Homo sapiens: one gene and its partner. The protein of the gene in region 1 purifies or fractionates together with the protein of each later gene. This does not show direct contact. Each region holds a gene or a part of one and is shown on either strand. Other genes may lie near its edges.

Region 1 (3,977 bases):
AGCCCAGGCAACATGGGGAGACCCAGTCTCTACAAAAATACAAAAATTAACGGGTACATATCCAGGTTTGTTATATAGCTAAATGGCATGTCACAGGGTTTGGTGTACAGATTATTCCATCACACAGGTAATAACTGTCGTACCTGATAGGTAGTTTTTTGTTGTTGTTGTTTTAAGACAGAGTCTCGCTCTGTCGCCCAGGGTGGAGTGCAGTGGCGCCATTTCAGTTCACTGCAACCTCTGCCGCCCGGGTTCCAGCAATTCTCCTCCCTCAGCCTCCCAAGCAGCTGGGATTACAGGCGCACACTGCCACACCCGGCTAATTTTTTGTATTTTAGTAGAAACGGGGTTTTACCATGTTGCGCAGGCTGGTCTCGAACTCCTGAGCTCAGGCAATCCACACACCTCGGCCTTCCAAAGTGCTAGGATTACAGGCGTGAGCCACCGCTCCCGACCCTCCTCTCCCTCCTCCTCACCACCACCCTTAAGCAGGCTCTGTTATTTTATTTTATTTTTTTTTGGAGACAGAGTCTTGCTCTGTCACCCAAGTTGGAGTGCAGTGGTGTGATCTCTGCTCACTCCAGCCTCGACTTCTTGGGTTCAGGTGATTCTCCCACCTCAGCCTCCCTAGTAGCTGGGACTACAGGCACCCGCCACCACACGTGGCTAATTTTTCTATTTTTAGTAGAGACGGGATTTCGCCATGTTGGCCAGGATGGTCTTGAACTCCTGACCTGAGGTGATCCACCTGCCTCGGCCTCCCAAAGTGCTGGGATTACAGGTGTGAGCCACTGTGCCTGGCCCTGTTGTTCCCTTCTTTGTGTCCTGCGGTGGCTCACGCCTGTAATCCCAACACTTTGGGAGGCCGAGGCAGGTGGGTCATCTGAGGTCAGGGGTTCCAGACCAGCCCGACCAATATGAGGCAACCCCATCTCTACTAAAAATACAAAAATTAGCCGGGCATAGTGGTGCGAACCTGTAATCCCAGCTACTCAGGAGGCTGAGGCAGGAGAATCTCTTCAACCCAGGAGGCGGAGGTTGCAGTGAGCTGAGATTGCGTCACTGCACTCCGGCCTGGATGACAGAGCGAGACTCTGTCTCCAAAAAAAAAAAAAAAAAAAAAATTGGATAAAAGTTAAAATTCAAGCCAGGCATGGTGGCTCATACCTGTAATCCCAGCACTTTGGGAGGCTGAGGCAGGCAGATAGCTTGAGGTCAGGAGTTCAAGACCAGCCTGGCCAACATGGCAAAACCCTGTCTCTACTAAAAATACAAAAATTAGCTGGGCGTGGTGGCATGTGCCTGTGATCCCAGCTACTGGGGAGGCTGAGGCACGAGAATAACTTGAACCCAGGAGAGGGGGGTGGCAGTGAGCTAAGATCGCACCACTGCACTCCAGCTTGGGCGACAGAGCAAGACTTCATCCTAAAAAAAAAAAAAATTAAAATTCAGTGTCTCTTTACTACCACAGCCACATTTCAGGTGCCCAGTAGACACAGGTAGCTGGGGGCTGCCATACTGGACAACACAGACAGAGAGTGTTGAGGCTGATCTAGACTGCAAGTATCTGCAGTGTATTAGCTACTGTGGCTGTGGTAATAAAGTGCCCCAGCCCGGATGGCTTAAGCAACAGAAATTTATTCTCTCACAGTTATGGAGGCTGGAAGTCCAAGATCGAGGTGTTGTAGGGTTGGTTCCCTCTGAGGACTCTCCTTAGCTTGCAGACGGCCGCCTTCTCCCTGGGTCTCCTCACATCATCTTCCTTCTGTGCAGTTACGTGTCTGTATCTGAATGCCCCCTGCCTTTTCCTTTTTTGATGCAGGTTCTTGCTCTGTTACCCAGGCTGGAGTGCAGTGGCGAGATCTTAGCTTGCTTGCTGCAGCCTCAACCTCCCAGGCTCAACCAATCCTCCCACCTCAGCCTCCTGAGTAGCTGGGATTTCAGGCGCATGCCACCATGCCTGGCTAATTTTTTTTTTTTTTTTTTTTTAAGACAGAGTCTTGCTCTGTCACCCAGGCTGGAGTGCAGTGGCGCTATCTTGGCTCAATGTAAGCTCCGCCTCCCAGGTTCACGCCATTCTCCTGCCTCAGCCTCCCGAGTAGCTGGGACTACAGGCGCCCGCCACCATGCCTGGATAATTTTTGCATTTTTAGTAGAGATGGAGTTTCGCCATGTTAGCCAGGCTGGTCTCGTACTCCTGACCTTAGGTGATCTGCCCACCTCGGCCTCCCAAAGTGCTGGGATTACAGGCGTGAGCCACTGCGCCTGGCCATGCCTGGGTAATTTTTGTATATTTAGTGAAGACGGGATTTCACCATGTTGGCCAGGCTGGTCTCGAGCTCTTGATCTCAAGTGATCAGCTCACCTCCACCTCCCAAATTGCTGGGATTACAGGCATGAGCCGTCAGGCCCGGCCAAATAAAAATACTTTCAACATCAAAAACAAACAAACAAAAACACCAAAGCCAAATACAAACCAAAAAAAGGCCTTTTCTCTAAATAAAGTCACATTCTGAGCTACTGGAGGTTGGCACTTCAACATATGATTTTGGGGAGAGACACGATTGAACCCATAATAGCCAGTCATACCCCATACTAATTAAAAGGCATTTGGTGTTACAGTTACAAACATTGGCATCAAATGGCTGCTCTGTCAGTCACTAGCTGTGTGATCTTGGTCATGTTTGCCCCTCTGTGGAATGGAAAATAAAAAAAATCACATGCCTGTCTCATAACCCAGGTGTCTACAAGCTTTTTCTGTCAAGGGTCAGAGAGTGAATATTTTCCACTTTGTAGACCCCATGGTCTCTGTTGTAGCTACTCCATCACTCTAGTGGGAAAGCAGCCATCGATGTGTGTAAATGAGTGAGGATGTCTGTGTTGCAATAAAACTTTATTTATAAAAGCAATTGGCTGGGTGTAGTGGCTCACACCTATAATCCCAGCACTTTGGGAGGCCAAGGTGGGCGGATCACACAAGGTCAGGAGTTCGAGACCAGCCTGGCCAATATGGTGAAACCCCGTCTCTATAAAAAGTACAAAAATTAGCTGGGCGTGGTGGCGGGTGCCTGTGGTCCCAGCTACTCGGGAGGCTGAAGCAGGAGAATCGCTTGAACCTGGGAGGTGGAGGTTGCAGTGAGCCAAGATCATGCCACTGCACTGCAGCCTGGGCGACAGAGCGAGACTCTGTGTCAAAACAAGACAAAACTAAAAAACAATTGGCCGGCACAGTGGCTCACGCTTGTAATCCCAGCACTTTGGGAGGCAGAGGCAGGCGGATCACCTGAGGTCGGGAGTTCAAGACCAGCCTGGCCAACACGGAGAAACCCCGTCTCTACTAAAAATACAAAATTAGCCGGGCATGGTGGCGCACGCCTGTAATCTCAGCTACTCGGGAGGCTGAAGCAGGAGAATTGCTTGAATCCGGGAGGTGGAGGTTACGGTGAGCTGAGATTGCACCATTGTACTCCAGCCTGGGCAACAAGAGTGAAACTCTGTCTCAAAAAAAAAGGCTGGACGGGGTGGCTCATGCCTGTAATCCCAACACTTTGGGAGGCCGAGACAGGCAGATCACCTGAGGTTGGGAGTTCAAGACCAGCCTGACCAACATGGAGAAACCCCGTCTCTACTAAAAATACAAAATTAACCAGGCATGGTGGTGCATGCCTGTAATCCCAGCTACTTGGGAGGATGAGGCAGAAGAATCGCTAGAACCCGGGAGGCGGAGGTTGCGGTGAGCCGAGATCGTGCCATTGCACTCCAGCCTGGGCAACAAGAGTGAGACTCTGTCTCAAAAAAAAAAAAAAAAATCGTGGGCCATATTTTGTGGCCCCTGTCAAAGGGAGATCTGCACGGTGGGATCAGGACAGGCTTAACCAAAAACATGAAGGAGGGTAAGGGAGTGAGCCATAGGGATATCTGGGGGGTAACAGAGATATAGGCAGAGGGAACAGCCAGTGCAAAGGTCCTGAGGCAGG
Region 2 (3,751 bases), on another chromosome or scaffold:
AGATATGGGAGTTAAAAGAAAATTTTTCATCACTAATGGTAGTCTTTGAGCTATATAAGGTCAGAAACAAAAATATCCAAGACTGATTTCTTACCTTCAAAAAGTAGCAAGCAAGGTAAAAGCAAATAAGCAGATAACTTCCCATTTATCAGAGATTGGGTGAAATAGGACTACTATGCACTCCAGGTTAGAGTCAAAGATGCCTGCCAGTCACAAGGACCTGTAACCCGATGCTTGCGGGCATCTGTGATGAATCCTAGCCCCAGATGAAATACTCCCAGACCAAGTGGTTTGGCAGGGTCCATTCCACAGGGGCAATTTGCATCTGGCAGCTGATGATGCCCTCTGTCCCCATTATAACCCACAATCTATAATAGAGCTGCTTGGTTGCTGTATTTTCTGAAAAATAAAAAAAGACAAGCTTGTGACTATCGAAGACCCATTTACCTGTTGGTGGCAAGGAGCTGAATGGCATGGTGGGTGTATTTCCTAGATAGTTGGTCTCAGGCACTGGGATATTATGCAGACTAGGCATATGACTTGGAATTGGCCTGTACCAAACTCTGGGACCTGCTGTTCCTGGATCCAGTGGTCTTGTTCCAAAGCCATGTGAGCTATATAATCCATTGTTCTGATACAGTACTTGAGGTTGGCTGGTGAGCCCTGAGGGCTGGTGCACTGCATTACCATGACTGGCTGCACTGGAATAAGCAGTGCCTTTTCCCTCTGTATTCTGAAAATTCTCGTAAGGTCTTTGCTGTGCAAAAGGGTCATGGGAGACCCTGCGTCTCCTTTCCTCCTCTCTGTTGTAAGCCACATTCTGTCTGGGCTGCTGTTTCGTCTGCCTGTCCATGCGGCTGCCATAAAGATGGTAGTTGGCTTCGTCTTGGAGTTTACTCTGCAGGCTGGGCTCATTCTCTTCTTGTGGGTGCTCCAGGGAAGGAGCAAACCAGGACTCCTCCACAGGACCCATCCCAAGTCCCTGGGAACTGTGCAGTGAACCAGGCTGTTCTGTGGCTGAGAAGAAATGATCAACATTAGAATGGGTGTCATGAAACATTAAAAAGTAAAATAAAATCTGAGCGCCGTCATGAATCTGTATCTCAAAGTAACACACAGAAAACAAGTACGAGACCAGTCCAAAGCATTTAGGAGATGGTCCTCTTCCCACAAGCTTTACAAATAATAATAGGAGCTCCTCGCTGGCAGTAAGAGAGTACTAGGAAAATTATAGCAAGCAAGAGAAAAGCGGCTGTTGCAGGGATGATCAAGGAAAAAAGGGACTTGGTTTGGAGCAGAGAAGGTGGTTGTCTCCTTGGAGCAATTCAGGTGGAAAATAAGATCTGTGGCTGGGTGCGGTGGCTCACGCCTGTAATCCTAGCACGTTGGGAGGCTGAGGCGGACGGATCACCTGAGGTCAGGAGTTCGAGACCAGCCTGGCCAACATGGCGAAACCCCATCTCTACTGAAAATACAAAAATTAGCCGGGCATGGTGGTGCATGCCTGTAATCCCTGCTGCTTGGGAGGCTGAGGCAGAAGAATCGCTTGAACCTGAAAGGCGGAGGTTGTAGTGAGCCAAGATCACACTACTGCACTCCAGCCGGGGTGACAGACTCTGTCTCCAAAAAAAAAAGATCTGCAGCAGCTCTGTCCTAAGCATGTCCCATGAATTCTTTCATTCTTGAAGAGCCCTATGAGAGGAGGAGCAATTATGATTTGATGAGTGAAGTTTAGAAGAGGTTAAGTAATTAGCCACAGATCAGGTAGCTAAGCGGCTTCAGTATCCTATACTCTGCCATCCCTTTTGTTACAGTGAAAAAAGTATCCCTACTTGACCTGAGACCAGCCTCTCTGCTTGTACCCTGGCTGTAAGTCACTCCGAGCTCCTCAGGGACTTTGCTCTCACATATGTCCCCTTCCTTCTTCTGAACTGTCACTTCTCCCCATCAGATATATTAGGCCTTTTGTTCAGAACACTCTATGACTGGTGAGCACACTGTTACTTCATATTTCAAATACATGTAACTTGACTCTCGAATATTATTATAAATTCCTGTAAGGCAGGTGTTCACTTTTATAGTTTCTTCTGTTTCCCATATGGTCCTGAATAGTCTTTTAGAGAGTGGAGTGAATGAGTAACCAAACAAATAAATGAATAGATTTTGACCATAGTGTAATTTACCTGAATTTGACCGGCTTGAAGGTACTGCCACACAATCAAGTTGAAGAGACTGCATTCTCTTCACAACTGCATTTTCGTTTGAATACTCTTTCTATAATTAAGAGCATAAATACACACTTTAGTGAACAGCAGGAAATAGAGTCCCAGAAAATTTTAACGAGAAGAATTCATATTTTCAGAAGGTAGAAATTTCACACAGATCTTACAAGTAGTAATTTTTTAAAATTAATGTTTTTCCCAAATAGCCAAAATGATCTTTAAAAAGAACAAGGTTGTAGGACTCACACTTCCTGATTTCAAAACTTACTACAAAGCTACAGTATTCAAAACAGCGTAGGACTGGCATAAAGACAGGCACATATGCCAGTGGGGCAGAATGGAAAGCCTAGGAATAAACCCTCCTATAAATGGCCAATTGATTTTTGACAAGGTTGCCAAGAGCATTCGATGGGGGAAAACTGAATATACACATATGAAATAATGAAGTTGGACCCTTATTTCATACCATATAAAAATTAACTCACAATGGATCAAAGACTTAATTTAAGGGCTAGTGCCACAAAAATTCTTAGAAGAAAACACAGGGAAAAAGCTTCATGACATTGGACTTGGCAGCGATTTCTTGGTTATGACACAAAAGCACAAACAAAAGTAAAGAGTAAAAATAATACATCAGAATTAAAAGCTTCTGTGCATCAAAGGATACTATGAAAAGAGTAAAAAGATAACCTACAGAATAAGGAAAAAATACTTTGGGAGGCCAAGGCAGGTGGATCCCATGAGGTCAGGAGTTCGAGACCTGCCAGGCCAACATGGTGAAACCTTGTCTCTACTAAAAATACAAAAACTAACCAGGCATGATGGTGTGTGCCTGTAGTCCTAGCTACTCGGGAGGCTGAGGCAGGAGTTATCTCTTGAACCTGGGAGGCAGAGGTTGCAGTGAACCAACATTCTGCCACTGCACTCCAGTCTGGGTGGCGACAGAGCAAGATTCTGTCTCCAAAAAAAAAATAAATAAATAAAATAAAATAATGGGGAAAAAGTTGCAAACAATATATATCTGAAAACGGATGAAATCCAGAACATAAAAAAAAAAAATCCTACAACTCAACAACAAAAAACAAACAACCCAATTCAAAAATGGGCAAAGAACTTGAATAGCAGTTTCTCCATAGAAGATATACAAATGGCCAATAAGCCATGAAGATGCTCAACATCATGAGTCATAGGGAAATGCAAGTCAAAACCACCATGAGGTACACTTTCACACTCCTTAGAGTGACTATAATATAAAAATGGTAAATAAAAAGTGTTGGTAAGATGGTGGAGAAATTAGAATCCTTGTGCATTGCTGGTGGGGAATATAAAATGGTGTAGCTACCATGTAAAACAATTTTAACAGTACTTAAAAGTTAAACATGGCCGGGCATGGGAGCTCACGCCTGTAATCCCAGCACTTTGGGACCTCAGATCACCTGAGGTTAGGAGTTTGAGACCAGCCTGGACAACATGGTGAAACCACCCCATCTCTACTAAAAATACAAAAAACTAGCCGGGCGTGGTGGTGT

The links.
Region 2: the proteins of TICAM1 (region 1) and RIPK1 purify together in Homo sapiens (affinity purification with western blotting; 4 studies listed by BioGRID). This does not show direct contact.

Annotation. Positions count from the first base shown.
Region 1 is NC_000019.10:4,821,477-4,825,453, reverse strand, and holds part of TICAM1 (TIR domain-containing adapter molecule 1), read left to right. Parts: intron 1-3,977.
Region 2 is NC_000006.12:3,102,748-3,106,498, reverse strand, and holds part of RIPK1 (receptor-interacting serine/threonine-protein kinase 1), read right to left. Parts: intron 2,275-3,751; coding exon 2,184-2,274; intron 1,078-2,183; exon of another isoform or gene 1,018-1,077; coding exon 448-1,017; exon of another isoform or gene 1-447. UniProt on the Homo sapiens protein: Serine-threonine kinase which is a key regulator of TNF-mediated apoptosis, necroptosis and inflammatory pathways.